Regions from separate parts of the Homo sapiens genome. Here region 1 is linked to region 2. The links come from fine-mapping of genetic effects on gene expression. A gene starts in region 2. The other region holds a variant in brackets. All regions are shown on one strand. Distances are from middle to middle.

Region 1 (9,383 bases), 85 kb after region 2:
TGTTTGACTTTTTCCACTGAGCATAATAATTTTGAGGTTCACCCATGTTGTGTGAATCAGTAGCTCATATCTTTTTATTGAGAAGTCATATTCCATTGTATAGATATGCTACAGTTAGTTTATCCATTCACCTGTTGATAGATATTTTGTTTATTCCCAACTTTTGCCTATTGCAGATAAAGCTTTATGAATGATCAGGTATAAGACATTTATGAACACATGATTTCTTTTCTCTTAGGAATATACCTAGGAGTGGAATGCCTGAGTCATATTATGGGTGTGTAAGATTACTTTTTAAGAAACTGGCCAATTGTTTTCTAAAGTCATTGCACCACTTTTTTTTTTTTTTTGAGATGCAGTTTTGCTCTTGTTGCCCAGGCTGGAGTGTACTGGTGTGATCTCAGCTCACTGCAACCTCCGCCTCCTGGGTTCAAGCAATTCTCCTGCCTCAGTCTCCTGAGAAACTGGGATTATAGGCGCCTGCCACCACACCTGGCTAATTTTTTTTTTTTGTATTTTTAGTGGAGACAGCATTTCGCCATGTTGGCCAGGCTGGTCTTGAACTCCTGGCCTCAGGTGATCTGCCTGTCTTGGCCTCCCAAAGTGCTGGGATTACAGGCGTGAGCCACTGAGCCCGGCCAATTGCACCATTTTATATACCACCAGTCCCTCCACATCTTCACCAACACTCAGTGTGTTCAGTGTATTTAATTTTAGCCATTCTAATAATCCTTTTTAGTGCTGCATAATATTTCCATGATATGAGTATACCAATATGAGTATCCCTACTGATGCACTTTTACCTCTCTTCCTATGTTTTTGCCTCTAGAAACAATTCTGCAAAACCAGACTATACTAACTGGAGCTTTTATTGCCATGAGACGGAGTCTTTGGAATAGGGTTGATGCATTAAAGTGTATAAATATTTTAAAATAAAATAAATCCTATTGAGAGCTTTCTTAAAAGGCTGTAATAATTTACATTTACCAGCAATGCATTAAAGCATCTTTTGCGTTTCTTCCCAACCTCACCACTATTTTTTTTTTTTTTTTTTTTTTTGAGATGGAGTTTTGCTCTTGTTGCCCAGGCTGGAGTGCAATGGCGCGATCTTGGCTCACTGCAACCTCCGCCTCCCGGATTCAAGCGATTCTCCTGCCTCAGCCTCCGGAGTAGCTGGGATTACAGGCATGTGCCACCACACCCGGCCTTTTGTATTTTTAGTCGAGATGGGGTTTCTCCATGTTGGTCAGGCTGATCTCGACCTCCAGACCTCAGCTCACCCCTAATTTTTGTCAATAGTATATAACTTTTTACAATGCTTTCAAGTTGTTTTGATTTTCATTTCCTTCATTATGAAGTGAATTTTTTTCACATGTGTATTGGCCATTGATTGTTCATCTGTGAACAGTCTAAGGATGTTGCACATTTTTATTTTTGTGAGTTTTTTTGGTAACATAGATTTTAAAATTTCATCTTAATTTTTTTTTTTTTCATTAGAGATGAGGTCTCACTCTGTTACCCAAGCTGGATTTCAGTGGTGCAATCAGATCTCACTGCAGCCTACAACTCCTGGGCTCAAGAGAAAAATTTATTTTTTTATCTTTAAATTTGTTTATGGCATCTTTGCCATATTAAACACTTTAAAGCCATCTTTTCTTTTATAACTTCTGGCTTCATGTCTTGGTTAAGAAAGTACATTCAACTCTTGGCTTGTACATATAATCTCCTGTATTTTGTCTTAAGATTTTCATGTTATTTTTTTACAGACACAAATTCAATCCTTCTTGGATTTTATTTTATTTTTTATTTTTTTAGATGGAGTCTTGCTCTGTTGCCAGGCTGGAGTGCAGTGGTGCGATCTCGGCTCACTACAACCTCCGTCTCCCGGGATAAAGCGATTCTCCTGTCTCAGCCTCCCAAGTAGCTGGGACTACAGGCGGGCACCACCACGGTCAGCTAATTTTTGTGTTTTTAGTATAGATGGGGTTTCACCATGTTGGTCAGGATGGTCTCGATCTCTTGACTTCGTGATCCACCTGTCTCAGCCTCCCAAAGTGTTGGGATTACAGTGTGAGTCACTGTGCCCGGCCTCTTGGATTTTTATGTAGTGTGAGGTAGCAGCCCAGCTTTACTTTCTTCTAATTGGAAAGCTGTTTTTTCCTCACCACTTAACTAAATAACCAATTTTCCTCTGCTTTTTCATACATTTATTCCCATTATTAACTAGGATTCATTATGTACTATGTATATTGTCCTACTGATTTATTTGTGTGTTTTATGCCGATGCCAGACTAACTTATGTTCAGGCATTTTTTTTCCGCACAAGGGAGCCTGAAGAAAGCATATCTAATTCCACACACAAAAACAACAGATTTCAATTGGAATTTAATTATGTATATATCCATTTTGGAAGAATGTATATCTTCATAGTGGTAAGTATTTTCATACCAGAACATGGTCTGTTTTTCTGTTTGTTCAGGTCTTGTTTCATGTTTTTCAATATGGTTGAGCTATATTTATAGTTAAGTATATCATGAATATATATATATAAGAGTATATGTACAGCATAAAGCTCAATAAAGCCATACCCAGTTTAAGGAGTAGAGCATTGCCCTTCGAAGCTTCCCATCCCACCTCCATGAGTTCCTCTCCCTGTCGCTAGGGTATTATTACTATCCTCTCTTTTGTGTTAATCATTCACTTTCTTTCTTTTTCTTTTTTTTGAGATAGGGTGTTGCTCCATTGCCTAGGCTGGAGTGCAGTGGTGCAATCATAGCTCACTGCAGCCTTGACCTCCTGGGCTCAAACGATCCTCCCACTTTGGACTTTTGTGTAGCAAGATCACCTTGTGCACCACCTCACCTGGCCAATTTTTTTTTTTTTTTTGTAGAGATAGGGCCTCACTGTTTTGCCCAGGCTGGTCTCGAACTCCTGTCCTCAGGAATCCTTCTGCTCTGGCCTCCCAAAGAGTTTGGATTACAGGCGTGAGTCACCGCGCCCAGCCTTTCCTTGCTTTTCTTTATAGTTTTGTATCACCTATGTCTGTTGCTCTAAACAATATATATTTTTAGTTTTTTTCCACGACTAACCTTGTCAAAAATGGAATCAGATTCTGTATTCTTCTGGGAAAAGAACGGTTCTTCTTTGATTAAACATTATGTATATGATATTTATTCATGTTGATGTAGGTAATTGTGTTTTGTTCATTTTTCCTGCTGAATATCATTCCACTGTGTGGATATTCTATAATTTGCTTATCCAATGCAGTATTGATGAATATTTGGGTTGTTTGTAGCTTTTTACTATCATGAGTCTTCTTACAAAATATCCTTATGCATTCATGTAAGTTTTTCTTTAAGGCAATGGTCTTCAAACTTTTTTACTTCTGTATTCACTAAAGGGATTTTTAAAAATTTAGGTCTTCTCTTGATTTTAAGCTGAACTTCTAAAATTTTTTCATCATGAATATTTGCAAAGGATGTAATTTCTAGCACATTGTAGATATTAACATTTTTAAATGAAATTACTTCAGTGCAAAAATTGAGAAGCCTTGTTCATATAAACGAATCAATAGAAATATAATCAATTCTGTTATGCTAATGCCACTCAATTCTTTGTACTCCTTCCAAAATAAATGCCAAAACCGCATAGTGGTTTCTCATTAATTTTTAATTTCTATTGATGGATATATCTGTCTTCCTTTTTGTTGAAAACAAAATAGTGGAGACTGCTTGACTTGCAGAAGGATTTAATGGCCAGTCATTAGAATCACTTGATTTCTCAATGTCTGGGAAGTATACCAAAAAAGCTTTATCAAGACATACCAAATGACTATAAATTGTATGTCTTACTCTTTCACTGAAAGGTTGAAAAGTATCCCATTTAACCCATTATATCTAAAATATTTGGAAAAATTGAAATATTATGAACTTTGATAAACCTCTGTCAATCTATTTAAAAAAACTTTTTAAGTGGAAAATTCTAAATACATAGAAGTAGAAAAAATAGCGTACTGAACTCAACGTATCTATCATTAGGCATCAACAGTTATACATGGGCAATCTTGTTTCATCTAAACCCCTATCCTTTCCACTCCTAGTTTTTATTATTGTTTTTATTTTTTGAAATAGGGTCTCACTCTGTTACCCAGGTTACGATGCAGTGGCATGATCACAGCTCACTGCGGCCTTGACCCCCGGGCTCAATGGATCCTCCTACTTCAGCCTCCTGAGTAGCTGGGACTACTGGTGCATGCTACTATCTTCCGCTAATGTTTTAAAAAATATTTTGTAGAGATAGGTCTGTGTTGCCCAGGCTGGTATTAACTCCCAGGCTCAAGCCATCCTCCTGCCTTGGCCTCCCAAAATGTGGAGATTAAAGGTGTGAGCCACCATACTCGGCCCCTTTTGACGTTTCTGACAAACTTCCCAAGATTAATTTCTAAATTAAGCCTTTTTTATTGATCTTGAACTAACTTTGGGACTTTTGAGATGGGCTCCTGGAAAATGTGAAAGAATTTCTCTCTCACCTTGTAAAAGAGGGA[C/G]ATTAAACTAATTGGCTTATTTGATATGTTAAATTATGTGGGAAGCACTGTCAAGTAAAAGTGACGTTTAGCTTTCTTTATATTTATATGGGCACATGTTACTAATAAGAGTGTTTCAGAAATAAAATTCTTTAAAATTTGTCAATACCCTTAGCTATTCATCATATGTCTGATATAATGTTATCAATCAGAATTCTACATCTTATTTTACAATGTTGTATGTCACAGAAATAACCAAATTTCCTCATCAATTAGATTGTAAGAAACTCTCATTAGATATTTAAATGTGACTACTTAAAAATCTTTTATAATTTACATGTTATTTTACTGTGATATTTTCCTAAAAGCTTTTGCAAGCCACTATGGTCAAAATTTGTCTTCAAAGAGATCATGGAAAAGACTCCAACAAGTACAGGTTTTTGATAACTTTAAGATCCCACCATTGGCCTGGGTAAGAATTTCCAGAACTCTAATGAAGAAACTGACTGGTTTGTAAAACTGTTAACCCGATGTTGGGCAAAACAAAAATTAATTGGATGGGACTAAATGAACTGATGAAAAAAAATGATGCTTTAAAAAATTACCTTTTTTCAAAACATTGCTCGTTCTTTAATATTTTGTTTTCCAGATCTGAGGAAATGTTTTCTCTTTTATCCTACGCTATCTGTAGTTGACCACAATCTGGTAGATTATGCATTTGTAAACAGAAATAAAGCATTTGATTTTCTCCCTACCTAATCCCTCCAGAATTTGAAAATGATGAGTGAGTATTCTTACATTCATGACCATAGTTGTTTGTATAGGTCCAATAAGAATCTATCTGTTTGTAACAGGACACAATGGAAAACATTGGTTACATTACCAAAGCTTTGGAATGTAATTTTTAGAATGTCATAGAATCAGATATGACTACACAGTTTTAAGAAACTAAGGATGACTTTGTGGGGCGAATAAGGCCCCTTAAAAAACCCCCAGCCTGGTACCTTGCTCACAGAGTTCCTAGCCTTATAGTTGAGTAAAGAAGGTAACTTTCATGCAGGCCCAGGAGCCTTAAAAATATTTTGGAGACCTCGAGAACAGAGGAACTCACCCAAATCTAGAGGTGTTACAGGCAAAATCTAATGACAAGCTCTTGGCTTGGCTTCCTAGACTTGAGAGGCTTTTAGATTCCTTATTAGCAGTTCCAGCAAAGCAGACTTAAAAAGAGCCTATACGATCAATCACTATTCTTGCTGCATTATATAAATAATCAAGACAAGTTTAATGTGACTAGACTTATTTTGTAAAAAAATTAGTCTTACTGTGATTATGTTTGGTAAAAGTGGGAGTGACTGTGGAGAGAAAAATTATATTAACAAAAACTATAGTGTACCCGTTATTGGATTCTAGTACTGTTCATTGTCTTTGAAGTTTTGTTATCTATATGTAGAATGGATTAGATATTAAACTCTAATTTCCTCCCATATCCGGCAACAAATCTTCAGGCTAATGCTTCATGTTTTTCTCCTACTCTCTTGACTTGACATCACTGAAAACTGAAGCTGCCCTTTTCCTGAAATTTTGCAAGCTGAAACTGGATGACTTGATATAAACTTCAGAGAACTCACTACCACAACTAATATATAAGCAACCTTTGTGCCTGTTGCTGTGTAGGCCACTCAGAAAGTCCACTGGAACACCCAATGACCTCACCAGAGACATTCAAACTGCAAATCAGGAAATTGATCAGAATTACCACTGCTTATCTTCACTCTCTATCTAAAGATGCTTTGAGCCCAACCTATAGTACCCTTTACCAACTGATTGCCCTCTGGACTCAAAAGCTGGGCTTATAACTTGCCCTAAACATTAACCTTTATTTTTCTTTTGTTTCCATAGAAATGCCTCTTATTGGGCTGGGCGCGGTGGCTCACGCCTGTAATCCCAGCACTTTGGGAGGCCGAGGCGGGCGGATCACGAGGTCAGGAGATCGAGACCATCCTCGCTAACACAGTGAAACCCCGTCTCTACTAAAAAACACAAAAAAATTAGCCTGGCGTGGTGGCGGGCGCCTGTAGTCCCAGCTACGCGGGAGGCTGAGGCAGGAGAATGGCGTGAACCCGGGAGGCGGAGCTTGCAGTGAGCCGAGATCGCGCCACTGCACTCCAGCCTGGGCGACAGAGCGAGACTCCATCTCAAAAAAAAAAAAAAAAAAAAAAAAAAAAAAAAAAAAAAAAAAGAAATGCCTCTTATTGTTTACATTATGAAGTCTCAACTTGGATGGAAGCCCAACTGCAACACGGCCTCCTAAAATGAGACGCAACTGTTCAACTGAACTGTTCTCAGGACTAAAAGGCTGTGTCAATAAGATACGGGGAATATTTGTTCTTCTGTGTGTTCCGATCCTTGTTTTTCTTTCCCTTCGTTGATCTCTTGTTTCACAACTTCCAACCCAAATCTGCTCACAGCTACTAACTTGGCTTTTAACATATGAAACTTTCTAAAAGTAAAGTTTCAAATGGGGAATGAAGAGGCTCAGAATACACTACCCCAAAACATGTCACTCAGAACACATCATCCCCAAATATGCCACTTTGGCATCAGAATTATTTTAAACTAAAGGCACATAAAAACAGGAGATGCAAGAAGATCACTCTGACCTTCACTGTTCTTTAAAAGCCAGAGATGAAATTCCCATGTGAAAGGTGTTCTCCCTAAACCAAGAAGAAAGTAACATTCTCATCACAAAGGATAGGAAGTTGAGGCTGATAGGAATCTATACAAGCATCCCTTATGTTCCTAATTACTTATTTACCCAGTTATTTACCCTAGCATAAGCCCCTTTGCCTTGTTACATTTTCACAATTCAGGGCATAAATGTTTGACTCTAGCTGCTGCTTTGTGTCTTCATTTCCTTATGAATGCTCTCCTGCCATTAAAAAACTTGCATTAAATAATTTATATACTTTTCTCCTGTTGATTTGTCTTATGTCTATTTAATTCTCCAGGCCCAGGCAACAAACAAACAAACAAGAAAACAAAACAAAAACAAAAAACCCCCAACAACAACAACAACAAAACCATAAAAGAGGAGGGGCAAATTTTTGCCTCCTCTTCTGCATTTTTCACATGCTTTATCCTGTTTTCACTTCTTTACTTTCTGGCACTATAAGGTGTTCCAGGCTCATCTTATATTTATTTTCCCTATCCTAGCCCTGGAATCAGCCACTTCTACACTTCTTGAAGGAGTCCTGGTTCCTTTCATCAGGGAACGGCATTTCGAAATCAAGATCTGAGTGCTGGCTGTGCTCATTGCTACTGGTGTCACTGCTCATAGTCTCCTCTCTCTCAGTGGGCAGAGCTAGGTAATTCATGTATGTATAACTGACCCATATATGCACACATATTATATTTTTGTATCTACTAAAAATAAATCAACCATGAGTTCATACTGATATTTCTAACTCCAGTCCAGCACCAGGATTTATTCTAGCATTATCTCTGCTTATTTGTAACTTCTTTCTGACAATGAGAAAAGTGGATCCCATAGCTTACACTATATTTAATTATTTTTGAGCCCAAGTATACCATAGGTTTAGGGTTGTTTGTGAAAAACGAATTTACCAATGAGAGTTTGTTGCTTCTGTACTGTTCTTCTTGTCTTTGGCCTGACACTCTCCAGTCAAAACATTGCTTTACAAAGGCACTTAGGTCAGCTCGTTTCTTCCCTCCTAACTTCCGTATGGTTATGTTTTTTTATTTGTAATACGGTTAGATTCATTTTAGCAGTCCGCTTTTCATCTTGGATTTCCCCAAGATCTCAGTTGATTTTTTAAAAATTTGTATACAGCAAAGTTTACCCTTTGTGGTGTATAGGTTTATGGGATTGAGAAAGGCATAGAGTCACGTGTACAACAAGACAGTTTAACTCAGAACAATTGGACTGCCCAAAAGTTTCCTAATGAGGCCCTTTAGTGGGGCATCATTTCATAGGACTCCCCCAACTCCAGGCAACCACGGATTTGTTTTCTATTTTTATAATTTTGCTTTTTCCAGAATGCCATATAAATAGAATCATTCAGTATGTAACATTTTGGATTTTCTCTCATTTAGCAAAAAGAATTTCAGATTCATTCATGTGTTGTGGGTTGATACTTTTTATTGCTGAATGGTATCCCATTGTCTGGATATACACAGACTTACTTACCCTTTCATCTGTGAAAGACAGCTGAACTATTTCTAGCTTTGGTAATGAATAAAGCTGCTATAAACATTCAGGGCCAGGCACAGTGGCTCACGCTTATAATCCCAGTACTTTGGGAGGCTGAGGCAAGAGGATCAACTGATGTCAGGGGTTCAAGACCAGCCTGGCAAACATGGCAAAATCCTTTCTCCACTAAACATACAAAAATTCACCTGGCGTGGTGGTGCATGCCTGTAATCCCAGCTACTCGGGAGGCTGAGGCAGGAGAATCACTTGAACCCAGGAGGCGGAGGTTGCAGTGAGCTGAAATAGCATCACTGCACTCCAGCCTGTGAGACTCCATCTCAAAAAAAAAAAAAAAAATCAGGTACAGGTTTTTCTGTCAGCATAAGGTTTCAGTTAACTTAGGTCAATACCTTGGAGTGGGATTGTTGGGTCACATGGTAAGTGCATGTTTAACTTTATAAGAAATTGCAAAACTATTTTCCATTTATAAGAAACTGCTATACTGCCATTCCCCAATGAAAGGAACCAGGACTCCTTAAAGAAGTGTACTTTTGGTGCAAAAGTAATCAGAGTTTTTGCCATTGAAGGTGATGGCATGAGTCAGGATTTCCTTATTTTAAAAGGCTGAATAATATTCCATTGTATGAATAT
Region 2 (9,383 bases):
GTGGCATGCATCTTGGCCTCCATCACCCCGTTGGGGTAGAAGATAAAGTCCCAAATGTAATCATAATTGTAGACAGTTGAAGTTGTCCGCAGCACCAGCACCTGGCCCTTCAGCCCCGCATAGAAGTTGAAGCCACCTTTAAAGTTGGAATTAAAGTGCCGCCGAAGGGGCACCCCTGTGGGCATTTCAAAGAGGCAGAGGGCTCGGGGATAATGGACCGGGTCATCGGCATCATAGTAGTGGAAAGTGTCCAGGAAGGTGGCGGTCTCCGGGCAGTCGATGCCGGGGGCTAACTCATGAGTGACGCTGCCCAGGCCCCAGCCGACATCGAGGTACTTGGTCTGCATGCCTGCAGGTGTGTGTCCTCCATACAGCGCCACTGCCTCTTGCACGCTGACCTCATAGGCAATGCGCTCTCCGCCGAAGTGCACGTTCAGGACCTGCAGCCCGGAGGAGGAGCGCAGCCGGAAGGCAAAGCTCCAGCCGCCGTAGAGCACAGCGTTGCCCTCCAGCCTGAAGCGAGGGCCGTGGGGCTGGACCAAGCGGGGGCCGCTCACATGGATGGGGCTGGGGAAGTCCCCGCGGGGCTTGTGGGAGGAGAAGAGGGGCGGCTCCTCTGTGCTGTCATGCCCCTTGCCCCCAGGCAGCGGGTCCTCCAGGACCACCACGTCCACCTCTCCATCTGCATACTTCCGAGCCAGTTCCTCTGGGCTCCCATAGAACTTCCCGTTGTACCACACCTGCTCCACGGCCCAGTGCCCAGCATCTGTGCTCCCATGATCCACGAGGAGCTCCAGCCCAGTGGGGTGCAGAAAGTAGCCTTCTACATAGCGCTGTATGATAAGCCAACTGCGGCGCTGGCCAGAAGCCACACCCCGGGGGGCCACATCGGTGAAGGCCAGGCATCTGTCATGGCAGTCTTGGAATGAGAAGCCTGTGGTATTGAGGAAGAACTGATGCAGGGGCTTGGTGGCTTCCTGCAGGGTGTGGTAGAGGAGGGCATACTCTGCTGTGGAGATGGGCCTCGATGCCCAGGAGGACTGGTACCCAGGCCTGGGGGACAGTGCTCGCATGTAGCAGGGCCCTGGCAGGGGCCCCACAGCAAACTCGGTGACATTGGGATGCTCCTGGTCACCAAAGAAGATGACGGCACGGGCTTCCCGCACAGGATGCCTTTCACCTTTATCCAGAAACCTCAGCACATGGTACTTCTTGGGCAGCAGCATCTCGATGAGAAACACGGTGTTCTTGGCCATGGTGGTGGTACTGGAGGGCTGCAGCCTCAGCTCCTTCTTGGACCAGAGGAAGCTGTGCACTGCCTTCAGCTCTTGGTTGCTTAGGTCTGAAAACACCCCTGCCTTCCTGGGCAGAGTCCCCGGGGAGGGCTCCGCCATGGCCGTCTGCAGCATCAGGATGGCAGCCACGGCCCAGCCCAGGGCCGGCATCTCTCGCTCCACGGCTCTGGAATGCAATAGAGGAGATGAACTTAGTTGTCTTATGGGCAGAGATGGGCTTCCCTCAGGTTAGGGCCATGGAATTTTCCCATGGACTGAGCTTCCTCCCCTTGCCCTGCCCCAAGCTGGAGGCTGTCCTGGGGCAGCTGGGGCCCCATGCATAGTCCCCAGCGCCGTCGGGCCGCTGCCTGTGCATCCATCCATTTATTTCTGCCCTCTCCTCACTCCTCTGTAAATGTCCTTCAGTCCTGCAGCCTTCCTTACTCAGGGGAACACCCTTGTTTTTGTGTATTATCTCAGCCAGGGGTGCCGTGAGTCACAGAGGCCAGGCTGGGCCCCTGCACATGCCCCCAGGTGCTTCTTGTGTCCTGGAGAAGAAGACACCTGTATTAACAGCAAAACTACATTTCTGACACAACGAAATACCTTTTAGGTAGACAGATTTTGAAATTTAGTGTAGAAATTCAAAGGTAGGCTCTAGAGTCAGGCTGTCTGAGTCAAGTCCCAGTGACTCATGCCACTAGGACTTGCTGTGTGGCCTTGGGCACGCTGCTTAAACTCTCTGGGCCTTCATGTTCTTAGTTTTAAAATGAAAATAATGACAACAGTGCTTAGCTCCTAGGGTTGTGGAGAGAAATCAATTAAACAGTAAATATAAAGTGTTTGTAACAATGTCTGCCATATGGGAAATACATGAGAAATGTTAGCTGCTCTTCTTGTTAAATACAGGCTATCGACACCAGCCCATTTAAAGTTTTACGCAATGTAGAGTGATTCAGGTGTGACTAGGCTGCAGACTGATGGCTTTGGGGGTGAGGTAGAGGTGCCCAGTCCTGCCTAGCCTTCTTTGTGCCCCATTCACCTCTCTTGTCCACCCAAGGCTACTAGGAGGGGACCTCAGGGAGGGTTTCATCTTAGGAAGATGCCTTTTCCTTTCTCAGGGAGGGTGGGTCAGGGTCTTCACCTCATAACCCCATTCCCCAAGCAGCTGTAAAATCCTGTGCTTGTAGCTGTGAGCCTCCTGCAGGGCTGGGAGACGTGGTGGCCACAGCTCTGTCTTCCCATGTGCTGTGTGCGGAGTCTCTGGGAGACTGTTACTCTTGCCTGTTGCGCTGTTGCTACAGATGCTGGCTGGAGCTGTCTCCCAGCCTTAGTTTCTCCAGACCCTAACTTGTCCTCCTAGGTGATGTGGGCCTCCCTGGAAGGCTGCCGTCACCGTGAAATTTCCCTACAGAAGCACTGCCTTTGCCACCTTGCACCCCCTTCCTCAAGGCTCTGGGTTGAGCTGGGAGCCCCGCTTCAGGATTCCTCCCTGTCTCAGCTGTGCTTTTCACTTCCTGCAAGCAGTGCCTGAGGCACAGACACTTGATTTATAAGGTGGATGCATGAGTGGGTTGGACTCTGAGAGATCCTTGTTTTCATATTTTCATAGGTAGTTGCCTTTTGCTCCCTAAATCAGAAGCCCTGGGGGTAAACCTGGAGAAAACTCGTTCTCCTGTGCAGACAGACAGGTAGCAGAGAGGGTTAATCCACTCCTGTCTCAGACCTCTGCCTGGCCCAGCCTCTTCCCAGGGGGCCCAGGCTGCCTGCAAGGGAGGCCCCGAGGATTTCACCTGGAAAGTCGGCGGCACAGGGTGTGAGGTGTAACTGAGGTGCAGCAGCTCCACTTTGGGTGTATCGTGGAGTGACCCACTGAGGAAACCTGACCATCATGAGCGCTTTTCATTTCTTGCTTTTGTTTTTGGAAAATGCATTTACACATCACATTTCCGAAGCACAAGCGTTGGGAACACAACCCATGTGTTAACTAGAGGCCCTGTTTTCCCGTGGCTTTTTTCCTCCAGAGAAGCTCAGCTGCACATTGTCCCTTCCCACCCGACTCTGGGCCAGTGTCACATCCTTTGCCACCTTTTGAGGTCAGCTGAAACCCCGCACTGCCGAGGAATGCTGTTTTTGGCCCCAACTAACATACTTCTCCACTAGTCCCCTTAGCACTTTGTATTTAATTTGTACACGATGGGCAGTTCTTGATTCATAGACAAATGAAAGGTGTTGGCTGGGCCTGTTCCATCACCCGAGGGCTCTCTAGCCCTGGAGGCCACGGTAAAGGCTGATCTGAGATGTCCTTCTCTCCCTTTCCCATGCCCCTCTCCCCGAGGGCTCTCCCCTTGCCCTCGTTTTGCTCCATGGTCATGGCCTCTCATGGGGATGTCCCTCTAGTTGCCTTGTCTTGCCCTCTGGTGCTGGCAGAAGACCCTGGAACCCACATGATCTTGGGCTCTCGGAGGCCCTGCTTACCTGGAGGGAGCAGGTGAGGCAGGGGCTGCAGGCGGAACCCAGAGCCAGCAGGAAGGATATGAGGTGAGTTCTTGTGTTCTCCTATTAAATATTGGCCAGGCCTCTTTTTTTTCTTCTTTAAATAGACTATTTTTTCTTTTTCCTGAGACAGTCTTGCTCTGTAGCCCAGGCTGGAGTGCAGTGATGCGATCTTGGCTCACTGCTACCTCTGCCTCCCAGGTTCAAGCAATTCTCCTGCCTCAGCCTCTGGAATAGTTGGGATTACAGGTGTGCACCACCATGCCCGGCTAATTTTTTGTTTTTAGTAGAGATGGTGTTTCACCGTGTTGGTCAGGCTGGTCTTGAATTCCTGACCTCAAGTGGTCCACCTGCCTCAGCCTCCCAAAGTGCTGGGATTACAGGCATGAGCCACCAGGCCTGGCCCCAAATAGACTTCTTATTAGACTTAAATAAATAAATAAATAAATATATATATATATATATATATATATATATATATATAGTCAGGATCTCACTATGTTGCCCAGGCTGGTCTTGAACTCCTGGGCTCAAGTGATCCTCCTGCGTTGGCCTCCCAAAGTGCTGGGATTATAGTAGACTTTTTTTTTAATAGACTTTTAAAAATAGACTTTAATAGATTTCTTAATAGACTTTATAAAGTCTGTTAAAAGTCTTTAAAAAGTCTATTAAAAGTCTTTTAACAAACTTTATAAAGTCTATTAAAGTCTTTTAAATAGGAGTCTTTTAAAGAGGAATTTTAGGTTCATAGCAAAATTGAGCGAAAGGTACTGAGAGTTTCTGTATACTCACAGCCCCTACACACGCAGCCTCCCCACTATCAATATCCACACCAGAGCCATACATTTGTGGCTGATGAACCTGCACATCACTCTCACCCAGAGCCCACAGTTTACATCAGGACTCACTCTTGCTGCTGCATATTCTATGGGTTGGACAAACGGACAATGACATGGATCCACCATTAGAATATCACACAGAATAGTTCCACCTCCCCCAAAATCTTCTGTGCTCCACCTCTTCCTCCGAAACCCTAGCAATCACTGCTCTTTTTATTGTCTCCATAGTTTTGCCTTTTCCAGAACGTCCTGTATTTGGAATCTTACAGTCTGCAGCCTTTTCAGATTGGCTTCTTTTGCTTGGCAGTGTGCATTTAGGGTACCTCCATGTCCTTTCACGGCTGGGTCTCCTTTTTTACAACCTCTTATACCCACGTTTCTTTTTGCTTTTCCAGGAAGGAGAAAGATGTGGAAGAGACCTTTGCTTTCCCCAGGACAAACCTCTGTCCCCATGTGCAGTGGCAGTGGGGGTGGTGGCTGGTGAGACCTCCAGGCAGGAACAGGAAGCAAGCCCTCTCCCTGCTCACCCTCCTCTCTGAGCTTTCCCCACTCCACCCTGGCCGGCTGTTGCCTGCCACCAAGCACCCGGGCACCTTCTGTGATGTGCTGGGCTCCCGCCCTCACTTCCTGGCCCTCCTCCCTCTGTGTCCTGTTTCTTCTGCCCCTCACTCTGTGCCCTCCTTCCACTGCTTTTCTGTCCTCCAGGTCAGCCCCTTCTTGACTCTCCCGAATACCCATCAGAACGCACCTGTGTGCTCTGCTCCCAGTTCGCTCTGCTTCCAGCCTTTGCCCTTAAGCTGATCTCTGACTCCTTCTTGAAGTCAATCAGACCCCGCCCTGCAGGGAGGGACAAGGTGAGGCCTGAGCTGGCCTAGGAGGGGCCTATGGCTTGGGAGGTGCCTCTGTGGGCAGCTACAGTGGCGAGAGTGGGTTTGAGGAAGCTGGCTGTGCAGCACACTTGTCCTGAGTCTGTTTCCAGACAAGTGCCGCCTTCCACAAGAATTTGCCTTGGCTTCTCTGTGACGAGCCATGCAATGCCACGATCTGTTAATTTAGGTGGCATATTTTAGAGGCAGAGATAAGGACAAGGGGCCATTTCCTAGCCGGTAGTCTTACCTGAAGCTGACAGATGGACCAGGGCAGGGGCTGATAGAGGCTGGCACCCACAGCAAAACAGAGAATTCAACCGCTCCTAGAACAAGACACCAGAGGCAGAACCGTTTGGGAGGAGCAGCCACTCAAGACGAGTTGCAAACTTTGGCGGCTTTTTAACGATCTTTGAGACCCTGACCAGATTCAGAAAGGAGGAAGGACTTGGCTGGGAGAAAGCTGGCCAGGGTAGCTAAGGCTATGGCACAGAGCGGAGAGGGGAGAGGACACTGGGGCAGGTAGTGCCCATGCAGTGGGCGGACAGTGCTAACGCCCACTTAGTCAGGTTGAGAAGGGCGAACGTGGTGACCGGGGTAACTCCTAGTTGGAAAGGAAAGAATAGAGTCAGGAAAAGTTCGTGGCTCAGGAGTGCCAAGGGGTCATCATCCCCCATTACCAAGGTTTGGTTGCTCAGGGATTGCACACCGCTTTGTGGTTATAGGGGTTTTGTATTTCTCATCATCATCCTTCCTGCTGCCCGCAATGCAAGCCATTTCAGTGTGCACTGGCAGCTAGATGAAGGAAGGTGAACACACTTAGTCAACTTGAAGCTTGCTTGCAATTCCAGAAGGTCTTTGGTGTTTCTGAGGAAGGGGATTTGCCTTCCATGTTAAAATGATGATTGATACAAAGACAATGAATGCTAACGTCTTTCACCCTCAGTGTTCAAGAGGACTGTGAGTTATGTATTCTCAGTTATGGGCTCACCAACTCCGCAGAGAATTGGGGGGATTTGGATTAGAAGAGAGTTTCAGGAACAACCTGATTTTGAGGACTACAATCTGTTTCCATTCCACAAAGGAAACTGCGACAAAGTTAATGGAGTGAGGATGGATCGAGAAAAGAGACTTGCAAAGATTTAAAGGGAAAGGGGCCACATGCACATGATGGAGTTAGACCCTTTCACACACGGAAACGGACTCGAAAGGGACCAAAGACATACATGTAAGAGCTAAAACTGTAAAACTCTTAAAAAGAAAACATAGGAGTAAATCTGCTTGACTTTACATCTAATTCTTGGATGTGACCTCAAAGCACAAATAACCAAAGAAAAAAAAATAGATAAATTGACATCATCAGTATTAAAAGACTTTTATGCTTCAAAGGACACCCACAGGAAAATGAAAAGACAAAGCATAGAATGGGAGAAAATATTCACAGATTATATATCTGATAAGAAAATTATATCTAGAATGTAAGAAGAACTCTTCCAATTCCATAATAAGAGGCAAATAATCCAATTAAAAATGAGCCAAAGATCTGAATAGATATTCCCCTCACGAAGATACACAAATGGCCAATATGCACATGGAAAGCTGTTCAATGTCATTAGTCATCAGGGGATGCAAATCAAAACCACCAGGAGATACCACTTTATATCCACTAGGATGGCTAGAATTCAAAAGCAAGGTAATAACAGGTGGGGCCAGGAGGCAGAGAAACTGGAAGCCTCACAGGCAGTTCATGGTGAGATGACGCAGCCACTTCGGAAAACTGTCTGGCTGTTCCTCAAATGACTTAACGTTGTTATCATATAACCCAGCAATCCCACTCCTGGGTATATGCTCAAGAGAAAGGAAAGCCTATGTCCATGGGGAAACCTGTACCAGAGTGTTTACTGCAGTGTTATTCACAATAGCCAAACAGTGGAGACGACTCATATGTCTCTGCATTGATAAATGAGTCAACAAAATGTGGTCTATCCACTCAATGGAACATCATTCAGTCATAAAAAGGAAGGAATCACTGTTACATGACACAATGTGGATGAACCTTAAAACCACTACGGCAAATGAAAGAAGCCAGTCACAAAAGACCACATTATTCCATTTATATGAAACGTGTGGGGTAGGTAAATCTCTCAAGCAGATGAGAAGCACATTAGTGGTTGCTTAGGGCTGGGGTGCGATGGAGGGATGGGGTGAGAGCTAATGCTTATGGGGTTTCTTTTTGAGGTGATTAAAAAGTTCTAAAATTGAAGGTGATGGCTGCATGTACCTGTGAATGTACTAAAATGCATTGAATTATACACTTTAAATGGGTGAATTGTAAGGTGTGTCTCAATAAAGCTGTTTTCAAAAAGTGACAGGACTAATATCTAGAATACACAAGGAGCTCTTGCAAATCGGTCAGAAAGAGGCAGCAGTCCCCATGGAAACCTGGTAAAGAATCCCAAGGGTAACTTGCAGAAGAGGCACCCCAAAGGGCTAAAGAGCACATGGAAAGATGCTCAAATGTAGTGGTTACTAGAAAAATGCAAAGCATTCAACAACGAGATATAATTTTTCATGGGAAAGCTGGATGATGCCAAGTGTTGACAGAGATGTGGGGAAACGGGGACCTTATGTGTGGTTGTGGGAAGGGGTTATTGATGGCACAGCCATTCTGGAGGGCACTTTGCAGGGTGTGGGCAAATGAGAGAATTGCATGCTCTCCAGACTCAGGAACTCTGTCTCTTGGAATATATGTCAAAGAGGTTCTCACCCAGGCCTAGAGGTGGGATGCAGACACAAGTGGCTGTGAGGCTGGGGAGCTGGAGGCCATCGGGGTGCCACCCCCAGGAGAGTGGTCACTGCACACCATGGGGTGTTGTGCAGTTGGCGGGTGCAAAGGCATGGATGTCCACACAGCCACTCCTGAGAAGGGATCTCAGGATCATGGAAGACGCAGGATGAGTGATAGCACGATGCCATTACACAACAGGAAACACGTACACACCAAGCCACCCGCTTTCAAGAGTGGATACACATTAGAATGGATGTGAGGGCGGGGGTGGGAGTGGGAATACATACATACACACGTGAGAAAGACAAGAGAGAGGACTTGTATGGGCCAGTGATGACGACATCCATGCACTGAGGTAGAATTAATTCAGTTCTGCAATGGACGTCCATAAATAAATAAAAGAAAGGCCTGGGAGACAGACTGAGTGACTACAGGTCCTCACACCAGGGTAGATGTGGCTGAGGACAGGAACCACCACAGGTCCCGCACCTGGAGGATGCAGTGAGGGCAGGGAGGAACACTGCGTGTAGGCAGGGAGCTGAAGCACACCAGAAAGAATTGCATTTTTTATGTAACGGGGCCCATAACATGTACATAGAAGGATTAATATTACAAGGTGGCACAGAGTAAGTGCAACACATTGATGCCCAAGGGCCTGTCCTGCAAGGGCTTGGAAGGAGATTCCCCTCAAGACTGCAAGCCCCCAAGTCCTGGGACTCTATCCCCTCTGCAGTAGCCTCCATGGCTGCTGTCACAGAGGACCACACACAGGGGCTTAAAGTAACAGAAATGGGTTGTCTCACAGTTCTGGAGGCCTAAAGTGTGAAATCAAGGTGTAGGCAGGGCCATGCTCCCTTTGGAGGCTCAAGAAGAGGGTCCTTCCTCTCCTCTTCCAGCTTCTGTGTTGCCAGCAATCCTTGGTGTCCCTCAGTGCCTTGGCTTGTGGCCATGTCACTCCAATCTCTGTCCTCACATGGCGTCCTCCTTGTCTCAGTACCTCTATTTTCAAGAACACCAGTGATTGTATTGAGGGCCTACCCTACTCCAGTATGACATCATCCTAACTAATTCATCTGCAACGACCCTATTTCCAAATAAGACCATATTCTGAGGTTCCAGG

What was found. PIP is the estimated chance that this variant, and not a neighbour inherited with it, causes the effect.
Region 1: its variant is fine-mapped to the expression of AOC1 in whole blood (INTERVAL, PIP above 0.99).

Annotation. Positions count from the first base shown.
Region 1 is chr7:150,763,356-150,772,738 of GRCh38, reverse strand. LOC105375566 (a long non-coding RNA gene) reads left to right here. Exons shown (of 4, transcript XR_928163.2): 3 at 6,763-7,887. Among named protein-coding and RNA genes, the nearest start is that of GIMAP5, 31 kb to the right of the region's middle. The variant C/G (reference allele first, on the strand shown) is at 4,544.
Region 2 is chr7:150,848,533-150,857,915 of GRCh38, reverse strand. It overlaps AOC1 (amine oxidase copper containing 1), which reads right to left and starts at 5,399. Exons shown (of 5, transcript NM_001091.4): 1 at 5,358-5,399; 2 at 1-1,461. The coding sequence starts at 1,445. The region is part of intron 1 of LOC105375567 (a long non-coding RNA gene); the gene reads left to right. RefSeq lists enhancers at 238-1,081, 5,246-5,817.